2 separate regions of the Homo sapiens genome follow, and region 1 is linked to region 2. A link means that fine-mapping ties the variant in region 2 to the expression of a gene that starts in the linked region. Tissue or cell type: whole blood. Region 2 holds a variant in brackets; the other region holds the start of a gene. All regions are shown on one strand. Distances are between the middles of the regions.

Region 1 (8,105 bases), 140 kb after region 2:
CAGCTGCTTTCAGTCCTCTTGGGCATCGATGTGGTGGTGGAATTGCTGGGTCATGTGGTGATTTTATGTTTAGAGAAACAAGCAAACTTTTTCCCACAGTAGCTAAACCATTTCACATTTCCACTAGCAAAGACAATCCTATACAAGGGTTCCAATTTCTCCACATCCTTGCCAAAAACTTTTAGTTGATTTTTAAAAAAAAAATATGGGTGACACTAGGACATTTTTGTACATAGCCCGGGGAGATCCAACACAGAGAGATAAATTGATGATGCAGAAGAGGAATGGGATCATTGCCTGTATTTAATAATCAACAAGGCAAGTGTGGGAAGCCCTGCACTCAAAAATAGAGAAACTGAGGACAGAGGAGAGCAGGGAGATGCCCAAGCGAGGATGCTGCTGTGTCCTATCCTGGCATCCCAGCCAGAGCTCCTCACAGCAAACCTTTCGAAGACTGCTCCAGGCCACCTCCCCTGACTTGCACATCTGAGAAAGCAGCTGTCTAATGGCTTCTTTCTTTTTCTCTTTCTCAGAAACAATAACAACAAAAGTTCAAAACCTGAAAAGTGAACCATGAAGCTCAGTAAAAAGGACCGAGGAGAAGATGAAGAAAGTGATTCAGCGAAAAAGAAATTGGTCAGTCCTTTTTTTTTTCTGTCTCCCTTACATGATTATTCCGGTCACCCAGGGGGTAGTACCCCTTTCCCCTGGGTCAGTGGGAGGCTGTTAAGGTGAAGCTGGGCAGAGAAAAGAGTGAGCAGCAGCTGAAAGCCAAGTTCTATGGGAAGGAGCCATGGGGATTGTAGAGTGTCTGGGATGAGGCTCAGAAGAGTGAAATTGACAGTCCTGATCTGCTGGTGACTTTCTGGGCTTGGGGCAAAAGTCTCCATTACAAAGGTCATTTCTCAACAAGGGGACATTGATGTTGACAATGATTATGTCATCATCGTTAAAGATACACTAAAACCCACCCCTTAATCCATCACAAAGCTTAGTCGACCTGCCCCTTCCTCCAGGAAGTCCTCAGCTCCTATTAATAGAATGACTTTCTTTCTTCTTGGGACTCATCAGATGCTCTTTTTAAACCTGATTCAAGAACCAACAGCCAGAGAGTGCCTACTCTGTGCTGGACCTTTACATAGGGCTCTCATTTAAAGAGAGACTCTTTACATGGTTCTCTCTGGATCAAACCATGCTGAAGGCATCACTGGCCCTATTTTACAGGCGATGAACTGAGGCTCAGAAAGGGATGAAGCCACTTGTCCAAGGCTATGTGGCTAGTACAGGTTTGAGCCCTTCTTAAACCTTGGATTATCTGTGCCTCACCTCCTGTGATGGGTGTGGAAGCTACTGTGACTCCAGGGAAAATTTATTTGTATTTATAATAAACCTGTATTTGGTAGGACAGAGATCAACACAAGTCCATTTACCAAGTTGTCAAGAAGGTGTGAAATTGGCAAGCTGAACATCATTGTCCCCACAGAGGTGTGAAATGGAGGATAAGGGTGCAGTCACCTGTTTGAGGTTACCCAAGACCCCACGCAAGAATAATGTCAAATAGACAGCAGTTCCCTCTAAGTGGACGCTATATCTTTTCTTGGTGCTTACATTAGGTGAGTCAAGGATCTACTGTCTAAGTATTTGGTGTAATGAAGGAAGGGATGTAGTCATTTCAAACATTCTGCTTAAATGATACTCAATAGAAAACCCCCCTTCTTTTCCAACTCTTCCCTGCTAGAAAACTTCCACCTTGTCCAAGACAACTTTTTAGCCTTAGGAAATCATCCGGAGGACAGTTTAAGGTCAGTTCCAGAAGTGATGCCTATCTACTGGACCCTGTCCCTGAGCCAGGCTGAAGGAAGTCTAGGAATACAAAGAGGCTTAGGACACTGTGGGTTTGCTGGGGCTGCCAAGACAAAGTCCCATAGACTGGGCAGCTTAAACAACAGAAATGTATTGTCTCACAGTCTTAGAAACCAGAAGTCCAAGCTCAGAGTGTCAGCAGGTTAGTTCCTTCTGAAGCCTCCCTTCTTGGCAGAAGTGGCTGCCTTCTCCCTGCGTCCTCACGTGGTCATCCCTCTGTGTGTGTCTGTGTCCTCATTTCCTCTTCCTATAAGGACACCAGGCATACTGGAATACAGCCCCATGCATATGACTTCATTTAACCTTAATTACCTCTTCAAAAACCCTATCTCCAAATACAGTCACATTGTCAGGTACTTGGGGTGAGGACTTCAACATGTGAATCTGAGGGGACACAATCAGCCCATTGAGACGCACACCATCCCTGCCCACAGTGAGCTCCCGTGCAGAGGGGAAGGCACACGTGAGCAGCAGCACACGTGCAGAGGGGAAGGCACACATGGAGCACAGAGGCAGCGAGAGGTTGGGGAGGCTGCTGGGAGGAGGTGGCGAGAGAGTTAAGTGCTGAAGGGTGAGCACAGTTCAGGGCAGTCAGAAGTGAGGGCCTGAGCAAGGTCAGGAGAACCTGAATGAGTAGGAGCTTCATAAAGACAGGCAAGTAATGACTGAATGAAGGAACCAGTGAGTGTCAGAGCAGGCAGAACGTGCCCCAGCCCAGAACATCTGGGGATGTTTGTCTTATGACTTCATCTGTGATAGGAGTCGCTTCCTTAGCAGTTGCCTGCAGTGCAGGGCCGATGGCCCTGTGGAATGGGGAACCAGCCCTCGCTTTGGAGGCAGGCTCCTCCATGCTCCCCCTGAACTTCAGTTGCCCCGAAATGTAGGTCTGATAGTTCCTCTGAGGACTAAACGATATCATGAAGGTGAACACACTTGGGAAAGCCCTGTGCACATGTAACATGAGCTGTGCACATGTAGTAGGAGCTGAAGGTGAGGCAAGTGCTGTGGCTACCAGGAACCCTGGTTAGCTACCATCTGGATCCGGGAGGGACCCATCTCCGCTCTTTTACTTTCTGTCCAGCTGTAGCTGCACATTCATGTCCACTGCCTAATTTCTGGTTCCTTTTGAGTTTTCAAACCCAACAGAGGACTACGAAGCAATTTTTAACGGGATGAGGGGACACCTGATCCAATTTGAGCTTTAGCAAAATCTGGTGAGGTCCCCACTGTTACAGATGAGGAAACAGGGAGGGTATAGAGAGGGGAGTCACAGCAATGGGATGAGGAGGGGTAAATGAGATGATGAAAATGCAGTCCCTATCAGGACAGCATAGGGGCAGAGGGGCCCTCCATGCACAGGGATGCAGCTGTCCCTGCCCCTCCTCTGCCCATCTCCTGTACTTCAGGCCCCAACCATGCTTCACTGACAATTTCACTTCCTCCCACACACTGCAGGCATCTGTGCCTGCAGGCCTTGGCTCCTTGTCCTCTCACCCCGTATCCTTCTCTGTCCGCTCAGAAGCCGCCTCTTCCAGCGGGGTCTCCAAGATCCAGCTGAGATTGATGTGGTGCCTCCTCCACACTGTCCTGGGGAATCCTCCGCCTTTTTAGGTCATGTTATAATTAAGGATTTGCACATCAGAATGCTGCTCTAGGCCCACCACTCAATGAGGAAACCAGGCTGCATAGCTGAAATCCAGTTCAAGAAACAGCCACTTCTCCCGGGGCATGCCTGACTGATTAACACACAGAAGGACGATTGCACTGAATGACTGGCGTGCTCAATACATCCCCAACCTAACTCCTGAGGGTGGTTTTCCTCTTTGGAAGTCTTGATTCCCCACTTGCTTTGAGCAGCCACATTCCCACCACCGTGCATGTCAGGGCCGGACGTTTCCACGTGCGTTTCACATTCCAGGTTCCTGGAATGTCTGCCGTACTCCACACCTTTTATTTTATTGTGTGCTTTTTACTAAACGTACTTTGCTAACTTTTCGATCTCTCTTTTGTGGACTGAGCCCTACCTTGCCTCCTGGACGTTCTGCATTCACCAAGCCTGTCCCTGGCTCTGGCCCAGACTCTGCACTGCTCTCTGCTTCTGGGAGCAAACTGTTCTAGCCAAAATTGAAGGTGCTTCTCTGGCGTCTGAGGCAACATGGCCATGTGATGAACTGATTCCCACAACCTCCTGGTGTGCATGAGGCCCTTGCCTTCTCAGTACTGTCCTTGAGCCAGCCTGGGGCTGGAATACAGGACATGTCCCCTCAGCCAGTGCTGAATGAGCAGGACAGAGTAACGACTAAGAGGCAAATTCTTTTTCTTCCAAACCCACAGCCCTCGCCTTTGTTCTAGGCTACAGGAGAGCCCACACTCATTTACAGCACGCCACTTGGGGCTGGCTGTTTTCTATTTGAGCTTCAGAATAAGTCTGCAGGACAGTCAGAGTGGGGTCAATATTCCATTTTGCAGTGGTAGAAGTTGCAGCTCAGAGAATAAAGTGACTTGCCTGAGGACACACAGTTAAAAAGTGGAGGAGTTGGCCAGACATGGTGGCTTACGCCTCTAATTCCAGCACTTTGGGAGGCTGAGGTGGGCAGATCACCTGAGGTAAGGAGGTCAAGACCAGCCTGGCCAACATGGTGAAACACAGTCTCTACTAAAAATACAAAAATCAGCCAGGCGTGGTGGCACACGCCTATAGTTCCAGCTACTTGGGAGGCTGAGGCAGGAGAATTGCTTGAACCCAGGTGCGGAGGTTGCAGTGAGCAGAGATTGCATCAGTGCACTCCAGCCCGGGCAACAGAGCAAGATTCGGTCAAAAAAAAAAAAAAAAAGTGGAAGAGTCAGGGGCAGAGCTGTATGCAGGCTTCTGAGTCAAAGTCAGCCACCTCTCCATTCTGTTCCAAGCATTAGGGAGGTATCCTAGGTTAATGGCAGTCACCCTGCTCCAGGCTTTGTTACCAGAGAAAAATAAAAAGATGCTAAGAAAAAAAAAAAAAATTCCACCCCCTGGGTGGCAATCCTGGAGAGGACAGATTTCCCTTTTTGGACTGTTTCATTGCTGTAATAACTTAGGAGCAGAGAAAAAAATGTTGCCCCGTTGCCTGTTCAGGCATGATCAAATTGCCACACTTCCTGTCAGGAACTCCCGCCCTCCTTCCAGTGGACTCTGCCTCCTCACTCACGGAAATGCCTTGGCAGAGTCTGGGGTCCCTGGACTGAGCCATCAGCTGGGTCACTGAGACCCATGGCAAGGAAACAAAATAGGAATTCCAAGGAACTGGGCCTAGTTCCCCTCACAGATGACACCAGCCACGCCGGGCCTCCAGGGCCAGGGAGGGCACTGCTGGAGTGTGACCACCTGAGGAGTGGGGTGCCAGGTGGAAGGAGAAGAAAGGTAACTACGGACAGCTTTTCTGCATGGCTGGCGGGCTGTGGGGAAGGCAGGCCTGGGTGGCAGCCGTGTGACAGTGCTCAGCCCCAGCCTGGCAGCGTGTAGCTGGGGGATCTGGGGCTTTGAGGCAGGGAGGCCTCAGTTTGAGTTGCACTTCTCCATCTGTGTGACTTTGGCATGCTCTCTCCAAGCCCCAGCTGACTGGGCCAACAGCGTCTCTGGTAGACTGGGTGTGTACATGGAATGAGGCTATGGTGGCAGGCTGCCCTGCCCCGCACTTGCATGGTGGTGTCCCTCTTCTCACCCTCCCCAGGGCATGGCACGGGCAGCAGCACCGTCGGTCAGTGGGCACCCTCTGCCCGTGCAGTGAGTGGGGAGCGGGTGGAGGGCACAGGCGGGCCACACAGGCAGGGGGCTCCGGGGAGCACAGCTGAGGCAGGAGAAGATGGCCCCCACCTGCCCTTCACCAGCCTCTGGCAGGGGCACTTCACACCAGGTGCTCCCAATCTGATGGGGTGCAGACCAGGGAGGAGTTTGTGTCCTCTAAGGTCATCGGGGCTGGGAGCAAAGAAGGCACAGAGCACAGAAACGATGCCCAGCACAGCCCAGGGGCTCAGAAGAAGTGGTATCTGTGCCGAGACTCAGAGGATAGGTTTAAAGAGAAAGAGTGATAGAGAACAGGCGTTTCATCTGAAATGTGATTCTGTTCCATCAGGGATCCCCATTCAGCTCAAGCTCCTCTCACTGCAGAAAAATATTCTGGTACTACATTTCAATTGGCAGCACCCATCCCCAAGGCTTATAAATGTTCCCTCTTGCCCCCGCATGTGATCAGCAGCCTCTACGGAGCACCTCCTCTGCAGCAGGCTCCTCAACAACATATGTGGCCAGTGCTGCTATTAAGATCCCATTTCACAGGTGGGCAAGCTGAGCCCCAGAAAAGTCAAGTCACTTGCTCAGACTCCTACAGCTGAGGGGACTGGCCCTGGAGGTAAAGCTGATATCACTTGGCTCAAAGCCCCAAAGCTCTATCTCGTGGCTGGTGGCACTAGAGGAGACAAACGAGACTGGCAGAGCAGGTAAGTGGCCATCAAGAGACCCGCATTCCCTTCCAGACGGGATTTGACTGATATGGGTCCCTGAACCATGGATCCATATGTCTTCTTCACTGTTGCACCCCCACAGCTTTGTCAGGGCCTGGCGCCTACAACACACACACACACACACACACACACACACACACTCACAAATATGTCAAATGATGGCAAAGAAGGTGCCTTCCGGAGCACCTGGCCCCTGTCCACTTGGCCTGTATTCCCTGACCAGCTGAGGACAGCCATCCCTCCTGCCCTGGCTCATGCCAGCTTGTCAGCCTTTGCCAGGGATCCAGGTGTTTCTGCCCTATGGCCCTGTACTGGTGGTGGCTGTCCTTAGATGGGGCTGCAGGGCAGGACAACACCAAGGCAGGCGCCCTGTTCTCTGTGCCAAACCTTGCATCTCTACGTCTGCAGGTCCTTGTCCTGAGGCTTGGACCAGCCCCTGTAGTTTGACGCCTCAGACTGGAACAGTATGTGCATGTAAGCGTGTGTGCACATCTGTCTGGCTGTCGGCAGTCTCAGGCCCTTGGACAACGGCACTCAGGTGACGGGTCAGCAGGGGACAGTGCAGTGGTGACTAGAGGGGCACTGCAGCCAGGCCACCTGGACTTCAGTCCCCATCCTAGACAGCACCAGCCACGCTCCCTGCCCCTCTTTCCTCACCTGTAATACAGGACATAACAGCACTGATCTAAGGACTCAGAGACAATGCGCAGAAAAGTGCTTAGAATCACGCCTGGCTGATAGCGCTTGGAGTCTGGCTTTGCTTTTTTCTGTCTGGGTCGGACACTCGCCAACTTCGCTGAAAGGATCGTGTGGAGCTGCCCAGAGCAGCTGCTGAAAACTGCGTTTCAGGAATCCTCACGCAACCCGGAAGGAACGCAAGGGCGTGGCCGCTAAACCTGAGGGCGCCCGGCCTGCGCACGCGGACCTGGACTGGAACCCTACTTGCAGGTCCCCAACTTGCGTCTCTTCTCTCTGTCTCTACCCCAGCCAAGGACAAAGACTTCTCCTCCGGAAGGCCTCCCCCAGCTGAGGGAACGTTCCAGGTCTTCCCTCGGCCCTGGCTGCGCGCCCGGTGCCGGCTCTGACGTGGTTTCCTCTCCCCTCAGGACTGGTCCTGCTCGCTCCTCGTGGCCTCCCTCGCGGGCGCCTTCGGCTCCTCCTTCCTCTACGGCTACAACCTGTCGGTGGTGAATGCCCCCACCCCGGTGAGTGCGCGCCAAGGCCCGGCAGAGGGCGCTGCGGCCCTGCGGAAACCTTCGGGTGCGCAAGGGCCCTGGGCTCCAGCGCCCCCTCCTGTTGCGCTCGCGGCGCGGGACACCGCGGGGACAGAGATTAGCCCCCACTCGGGGGAGAGGGGAGGCACAGAGACAGACAATGATGACACGGGGACAGGGGCGGGGGATGACAGTTCTTGCGGCTGGAGGGCGGGTGTCCTGGGAGAACGTTGGGAGACTAGATGAGAGGGGGCTTCGGAAGTCCCGGGGTGGGGTGGGGGGCGATCCTCTGGCCCCTAATGCCGGGGAAAGAACCAGGAGGGGCCTTATGCATGGAAACTTGGACATTTTCTTGATTTGTTTTGTTGTTGTTGTTATCTATCTATCTATCTATCTATCTATCTATCTATCTATCTATCATCTTTGAGATGGAGTCTCACTCTGTCACCAGGCTGGAGTGCAGTGGTGCGATCTCGGCTCACTGCAACCGCCGCCTCCCACGTTCAAGTGATTCTTCTGCCTCAGCCTCCC
Region 2 (8,105 bases):
GAGGTGTTGCATAATGATTCATATGGAGTTATTGATTGGTCCCCTAAAGGGGCATCTATGAGGCCCCACCTCTCAATCTGCAGGTAGTGGTCACTCTGCATCTAAACAAAAAATAATCTGATGGTGGACACTAAGTACAGCAAGGGTTCCTATTATTTGGGCATATGGTATAGTGGTACCGCAACCCCAAATGATATGGCGTGCTGTAGGAGCTAAACGTAAGGAATTATGGAAAATCTTAATGGCACTGAAAAAAAGATTTGGGAAGGGAAATTTATTAAGCCAGCCCAATATAATCCTAATTACATAGTAGAATTGGCCTAACGATTCAGTCCGGATACAGAGTTGTGTCCATCTGCCTTTCCTGTTGGTAGAGTGGGTTTTTTAAAACTTGATCTCCCTAATCATGTAACTTGTCAGGAATGTAGTTTTCTTGTGTTAATTCTTCCTTGTATAATACTGATCATTCTATTTTAGTGGTAAGAGCCCGAGGAGGAGTATGGATACCCGTAAAGCTTTCCTGTCCTTGGGAAGCCTCTCCTGTGCATATTGTTACTAAAATTCTTCAAAAGGTTGTCACAGCTGCTGCCACAGTAGCTGGAGTTGCTTTGCATTACACAGTACAAACAGCAGACTATGTAAATAATTGGTAGAAAATTCTACTTTGCTGTGGAGTTCCCAAATAGACCACGAACTAGCTAATCACATCAATGAGATCTCCAACAAACTAATGTGGCTAGGAGATTGAGTAGTTAGAATATAGAGTACAGTTACAATGTGACTGGAGTACTTCTTTTTACGTTACTCCTCATCTGTGAAATGAAACAGCATGAGTGGGAAAAAGTTAACATTTAAAAGGTCATACTGGATATTTTCTTCAGATATTGCAAAACTGAAGGAACAAGTGTTTCAGAAGCCTCTCAGGAACATCTGACGCTAATGCCAGTGCTTGAAGGAGCTGCAGATGGATTAGCAGCTATTAACCCATTAAAATGGATCAAGACACTTGGAGACTCTGATTTCTATGACTGTGCTTTTAATCTGTGTAGTCTGTAGCCTACAGATGCGGATCCCGAATCTTGCGAGAAGTAGCCCACCATGACAAAGCTGCCTATGCCTTTATCGCTTTACAAAAAGGAAAAGGGGGCCTTGCTGGTAGCAAGCCCTAACCCTGTCATAAACAGGCGTTAAACTGGCCATAAACAGGATTTCTGCAGCAATGTGACATGCTCATGATGGCTATCACACACACTGCTAAAGGTTGGTTTACTGGAGCAGCGCTAGGAAAACCTGGCCCACCCAGAGCAGGAAAACTACTCAAACCACAAACAATAGCAGGAGCTGCCGGTGCCTTAACATGCTTTTGCTGCAGATAATCAGCCAGGGCCTGTTTCTCTGCTCCTCACTAAGAATGCTTTCTTTCCCATAAGGAATGCTTTTAGCTAGTCTGTAATATGTAGAAACTATGCTTATCACTGACTTTGTCAAATGTATGGGTCAGACTGACTCTCAAGCTCTGAAGGCTGTCAGCTCTTTGATTCCCACTTCATTCCTGTGTCTCTGTCTTTAATTCCTCTAGTGCCACTGGGTTAGGGTCTCCACAACCAAGCTGGTCTTTGGCAGTCTGGGACACTGAAGGACACTTGATCAACCCACAGCCAGTGGCAGGTCTCTGCTGACTGGACTCCAGGCCAGTTGCCTTACACTGCCATCTTCCCCATGGCAGGCCTTCCTGCACCAGCAGAGATGTCAGGGATACATCTGAGTTTTGCCTTAGAGTTTCTACCTTATGCCTTAACATCTAGGTGGTGGACAATACCTGGGGGTTTCAGGACGCTTACAGAAATGCCAACCAGCATTGGGAGGTAGAAAAGACTCTTGGATCAACCTCCACTTGAGTATGGAGAAGTCAGGAGGCAAGGAGTGGAACCTTCAGAGAGATCGAGGAAGATAATCCCATGTTTGAACAACCATCAGTAGGAACTGAAGAGGGACAGCAGGCTTCTAATTCCCCAGGCATAACCATGTTACCAGGAACGCCAGCAAAGGAGACCAAACAGAAGGTCTGTTATAGGTGACAACACTCCACCCAAAGAGGGCAGAGCGCAGTAACTGACCAAAGCCTCAGTATACCAAGCTCACCGATTACCATCAAAAACCACCACCGGTTAACCTGCTTCACCAGGACATTCTGTAGGCCCAGTGCCAACTATTAGAGCTGAGCAAAGGCCAAAAGTTAGAGGCATACATATCTGCACCTTTGCCTACCCACATCAAAAGGATGCTCCCAGCAGAGCTGAGACTGGAATCCAGACATCACAAAGGTTGTCTGAAGTGGACAAGGGAAACATCCCTGTGAAATTCAGAGCAGATTCATCTTCCTCAGAGGAACTGCCTGCCCTGGAAGAGCCTGCTTCTCTCAAGAGGATTTATACAATCGTGGTGACAACTTTCACCTCAGACTTTGCTGGCCTTGTGGGGATAGAATCACAACCAGGGCCAGGACACCAGAGGCAGTGCAATCGCCACAAGAGGCCTATGGAGTTGGGTGGTGTGGGATCCACGGGAGAAGTATCCCTGCAGACAGAGGTGTCTGGGTTCACTCATCTCCCGTTTCATGTTGGACACACCTGAGTTCCAGGAAAGCCAGGAGGCAACAGTTTATTTTTGCTTCCTGCCTCCAATTTCACCCCCATACCTTGAAGGTGCTACGTTGTGCCTCTAGTGTGTTAAGTGAGGTCTTGATGAAAAGCCTCCCGTAGGTATAGAACATCAGGAAGAAGGGCATATCTATGGCACTTAACGACAAAGCCTCAGTCGATTCCATGGTGCTGACCTCTGAAGTCCGGTCTTCATACCTTAACAGGCCAAGCACACACCAGTGGGTGGCAGATGTCAACTTAAGACACACCCCCGCCCCCCACAGCAGTGCCTGCTGCTTCATAGGTTGAGATACAGAGCCTCGGTTTGAAGATGGAAACATTTCACAAGTTACCATTGATTCTAGTTAATAAGTAGAACAAGTCATACTCCCAGGTGTCTACTCTTCTAGACATGACTTCAGCAGCTCTCAGCTGGGAACTTCCTCAGCTGACCATTGTAAAGGAGTTGAGAGAAGAAATAGCCGTTTGCTCCTGTACTGAATTTCTCAGAATACTGCCATAAGAACTGCTTCACTCTAGTTGTAGACTTCAAGTGTAAGTGTTAAGACAGAGTCCTTTAATTCTCCTTCCCAGAAATTGATAGACAAAGACAACACCTGCAGCGGCACTCAGACTAACATTCAAGATGTCCCTGGATCCCAAAGCAACTCCATGAAGGGACCAAGACTACAGGAATCCAAGGCTCTTGGAGGATTCTTTCAACGTCATTGCTCCTGCTTTGTCATTGGCTATATCTGAAGAAGGAACTAGGGTGGAAGCAGTTTGAGTATTTGACACTCAGGCTTTCATGAATGAGATGAAAAGCAGACAAAAACAATCCCTAGTCATGAAAGCTGTGACATGCTAAATATCAAGGAATTGAGATCAGTTGGCTAGAGAAGTTGATACTGTGCATGATGCCGTTGAAAACTTTAGTTAAAAAGCAAACTCAAAATGCTCAACACCAAACTTGAAAAGTTGCTAACAAGCATCTCAATTATGCCTTTTTGACCTATGCAAGATATTCCGTATATTGGAAAGATGTATCCCACTTGGCCTAATGCTTCTAGATCTACCAGCTGTTAACTGGTTTCAGCTTCTCCCGCTTGTATTTCTGATCCTAACAAGGAATGGAGTGACTGGTGACTAAATGTGTCCTGCAAGTGCAAAGTTACACAAAACCTACCTCACTGGTCAATTCCCTTGCACTGGAATGGAAAGCTCATTTATAGCATCACTGACAACTTCTGACCAGAGCAGTTTAATGCAGTACTGGAACAATGGTCGACCAATGAGAAAAGCTCCCTTTGCCTTCCAGAGCATTTACAGTTTCATCTAAGCACGAGGACAACTTACAGACTAGCATGTTTACATGTTATGAATTTCAGAGAGCCCTGATGAACGTGACTAAGAACATCACCACTATGCCAACTCAGTGGGCACAGAGCTCAGCCCCATTGCACAAAACAGCATCAACTCCCCTACTTAAAATTCTTTCCCAAAAAACATTTTTCAGGATATTTGAGTTCAATAACCTGAGGCCTTTATGGTTTGTCTCCAGGATAAACACACAAGGCACTTTATTTTCTACTGAGTTGTGGGTTTTTTTCTGCTTTTTAAAGCTTTTAAGGTTGCTTCCCACTCAAATTGAGTTTTAAGTTACCTGATGAATTTAAGGAACCATATTCACAATGTGCAAGCATAATTTTGCACCATTTTAGTTGAATTGGATCGTTTTTAAATTTAGATTTGACATAAAGCTGTACCATAATGTATCCAGCTAAGTTTAGTCTGTGCTTCCTAGACTTACAGCCTTGCCGTGGATCTTTTTCACTTGTCCTGGGTCAATGAGTATCCAACTTTATTAGTAGGGAATTTTTGCTTTTACTGAAGACAAACTGGGAGGAGAGGTGGAGTAGGAAGGTTTGTAACCATCATGATACAGACACTAGTTTTGGAGAAGAATCCTCAAAGACGAGGTGAAAAGAAAGCTTGGGAAGCAGGGGATTTGTGGTTCGCTGCTCACCCCTGCCCCCAACTGGCTGTTGGTCAGAATTTCAGTGATAATACCCATTTCTTCCTCAGACATGTTCTTGTCCAATTGTCTTTTCCCAAGACACCAACCAGGAATTGAGTTTAATATCCAGAGGATGTTCAGGAAGTCATTCAGGCAATGAATTTAGGTGTTTGCCCAACTATGAAGTGTAGAAGTTTCTTGCCATTGAATTTGAGGCCTTATTGCAAACTTCTTTCAGTGAATTGAATATATGTGCCAATTAGGTATTAACGTCAAATTTTCCACATTTCCTAATTGTTTTAAAGATGTGTTCAGCCAAGGTAAACTGCCCACTATAAGCCATACAGTTTTTTTTTTTTTT[TA/A]AGGTTAATATGTAGTTTAAAGTCTTAGTAGATAAAGTTATATCCACAGGTAAAACTGAATGAAGTATGTAGCAAGATTCTTGAAGGTATGTTGGAACGTAGAAAGCCCCCTGGGATGATAGCCAGCCATACATGGGTCATGGAGAGGGAGCAGGAACTCAGTCCTCCAAGGACTCACCTGCAAGCAGCATCAGAGCAGCTTCTCAGCCTCTGCCCAGACAGGCTACATGTGACCCGATAGCAGCCTACAGGAAGGCACAGAGGTCATTCAGACCCACAGTGGGCTGTATCCCACACACTATGACTGTGGTGCCGGTCCCGGTCCCAGTCCCAGGCCATAATAGGAAAAGGATGTCCCAAATCAAGAGGAAAAAAGGCAGTATCATAAGCCCTAGGAGCTCAGTTTAGGAGATGTGTTCTAGGAGGCAGGCAGTCTGCTCCCCAGGGAATGCTCCTTGCCTGACCCAAGCTACCCTGACTCTCCACACTGAGAATTGGAAGTAGTCATTTGGCAGCAGGCATACATCATCTCCCCTGTGGAGAAACCCAATGGCCCTCCAGTGTTCCTAAGAGACATCCACTCAGCTGTCTTCCACAGGGGGGATTTTGACCCTCACAACCCATCCCTGCCCAGCGGTTTCTTGCAACACAGCGAGACACCTATACAGTATTTCCTCCTCTACCTTATTCCTGGCTGGCTGCACTTGCACACGCCTTCCAGCCAGAATACAGGATGCACAGACACATCCTGCAAGTAATGCGAAAGGGCTTGGGGAACACCAAGCATAGAAGTTCCCAACCCGAGCATAGACAACAGGTTATGCCACATGCCTAGAGGGACTGCTGGCTTAGAGATGGGCCACTTGGCTTATTCTTATGGCTTGAGGCCCAAGAAAAGGCCACTGAGCTCTTTGGGGGCATGCACAGATCACCAACATTGACTTGGGGGTGAGGCCGTGCTCATGTTTTCCAGTTCTATCTCCCAAATCACCTGGACTCAGACTAAATGAAGGTAGATTTTAGCAACTGCTTAAGAACAGGAGTTTGAGGCATTCTTCTGAAACACATCAGGTAGAGAGAATCTTCCCCAAAATGAGCGGGGGAGGGGGACCACCAGCTACTGTAGCCTAGTCCCCAGGAAAGAAGCCAAGTTTATAATAAGCAAGTACAAGGCCCTGGAGTGTGGCCAGTCCACAGCACCACTTCCCAGTTCATCTGATGTCACTTAGGCTGTGGCAATACAGGTGGGGGCTCACAGCTAGTCCCCCCTAAGTGAAGAATGGAGCACTAGCAAGATTGAGGGCATCTAAAACATGATAAAGGTCCCAAGTAGTCACTCAGGGAAGCCCCTTGAACACCACCCCCACCCAACCTTCAGTACACACAACCAGCTCCACCAGCTGTCAATCTCACAATGATGGTGAAGCCAAGTCCAGGGTCACCTAGGAGCCTCCTTTCCCACCCTGCAGCTCATCACCTGAGCTTCCCTTGGTAGGTGGATCCATGGTCCTAGAATTGAGGAACTCAAAGCCCTGCTAGGATGCATGGGAAACCTCAGCAGTTCAAGGACAGGTCCCCAGATAAAGGTCTCAGGATCTGCCCTTTTCAGAAGACAGGCAGTACACCCTTCCCTTTCCAAGGAGCTGGGTACTATGCTACACCCGATACCTGGGCTAGAAGTTTCAACATTCTTCTGCGGACAACAGCCCTCGTCGTAATGCAAAGTTTCTTGAGCCAATGTTATGCCACATCCCTGGATGTGGCCACTTCCAATGGCTAGGAGTGTGAGGAGTACACAAAAGCCCAGCCAGGTAATATTCAAGGCTAGCTGTGGAAGCTACTCTGGCTCCAGAGATTATGGCCTCATTTAAGCTTCTTTTCCAAAACAAACAGTTTGCATTCCACCCTGTTCCAGTTTGCTTTCAGGTGTGAGAGCTCACTTCACCAGTAAACCTAACACCTTAAACAATTTCCATCTACAAGTCTGCCTCTAGGGAACACAAATTGACTTCACATACCCAATTATTTCATTCTCAGATCGCTGTAGAAAGTCAAACAACCCACTTGGCTCCTCCAGTATGGAAGTAGGCAGAAGTCCCCTGGGTTTGCTAGTACACATTGGTGTTAGACTGGTTGTTATAAACTTAGTTGTGTAAAGTCCAAGGTCCACCTGGTCTTCCCAAGAGGACACGTGTGTCACCGTGTGACTTTTCACATTGCACAATTGGTGTCTTAAGCCTATACCATGAACCACCTAGAACACATTACAGAATTCGTCCATTCACATTGTGTGCCAATCTAAAAACTTAAAGACAGAAATTTAAATATAGATCAAGGAGATACTTTGTAATGAGGTCAGCACAGAAGGTTTAAGGGAGAGGGTCCACTGGCTGGAGTACAGGAATGCCTTTTTTGTATGCTCTGGACCCTCTCCACCAGGCTCAGCAAGACTGACAAGTCTTACGTCCCAGTCTGACTTCAGCCCCATCCTGCCTCCTTTCTCTCTTCATGGGTTTTAATCTGAATATTTTATACAAACTTAGTGTTGGCTTAAAGTGTCCTTCCCCAAGCGCTCAACTACCCCACCACAAACCACCCACGGAAGTAGTCTCAGCCTGGTTCAAAGGAGCGAACAGTCAGGCTTGCAAGAGCCTCTTCCGTAGCCTGCCTCAGTTTACCAGCAGTTTCAAGAGACAGTTTGCTGCCAGGAAACAACCTATGACAAGCACAATGCACTCCAGTTGCAGTACCTACTTTAAACCAACAACTGTTCTCTGATGCTTCTCCCTTATTACCCACAATGACCCCGGATAGTGAGTTTAGAAGGCATTTACTTCCCAAACGTAGGTCCAAAGCAGACCTAGACAGTGTAGCTCCAGATACTTCCAGAGGACCCAACTACACTGCCAGGTCATGTTTGGCTCCTTTTGCCGGAAGGTGAGCAGGAACTGCTGCTACACTGGGCCATTTCTTGGTGCCCCCAATGCCTGATGGGTCAGGAGTAGCTAGGCCATTACAGCAAACATTGCCTGATAAGGACAGGCCAGCAGGGGCTCAGACATTAGGTGGTTGTTTGGTCACCTT

The links. PIP is the estimated chance that this variant, and not a neighbour inherited with it, causes the effect.
Region 1: it holds the start of SLC2A9, and the variant in region 2 is fine-mapped to the expression of SLC2A9 in whole blood (INTERVAL, PIP above 0.99).

The regions. Positions count from the first base shown.
Region 1 is chr4:10,018,435-10,026,539 of GRCh38, reverse strand. It overlaps SLC2A9 (solute carrier family 2 member 9), which reads left to right and starts at 5,043. Exons shown (of 12, transcript NM_020041.3): 1 at 5,043-5,260; 2 at 7,467-7,565. The coding sequence starts at 5,111. RefSeq lists an enhancer at 5,062-5,561 and a silencer at 7,575-7,734.
Region 2 is chr4:10,161,595-10,169,699 of GRCh38, reverse strand. No RefSeq gene overlaps it. Among named protein-coding and RNA genes, the nearest start is that of WDR1, 49 kb to the right of the region's middle. The variant TA/A (reference allele first, on the strand shown) is at 5,021.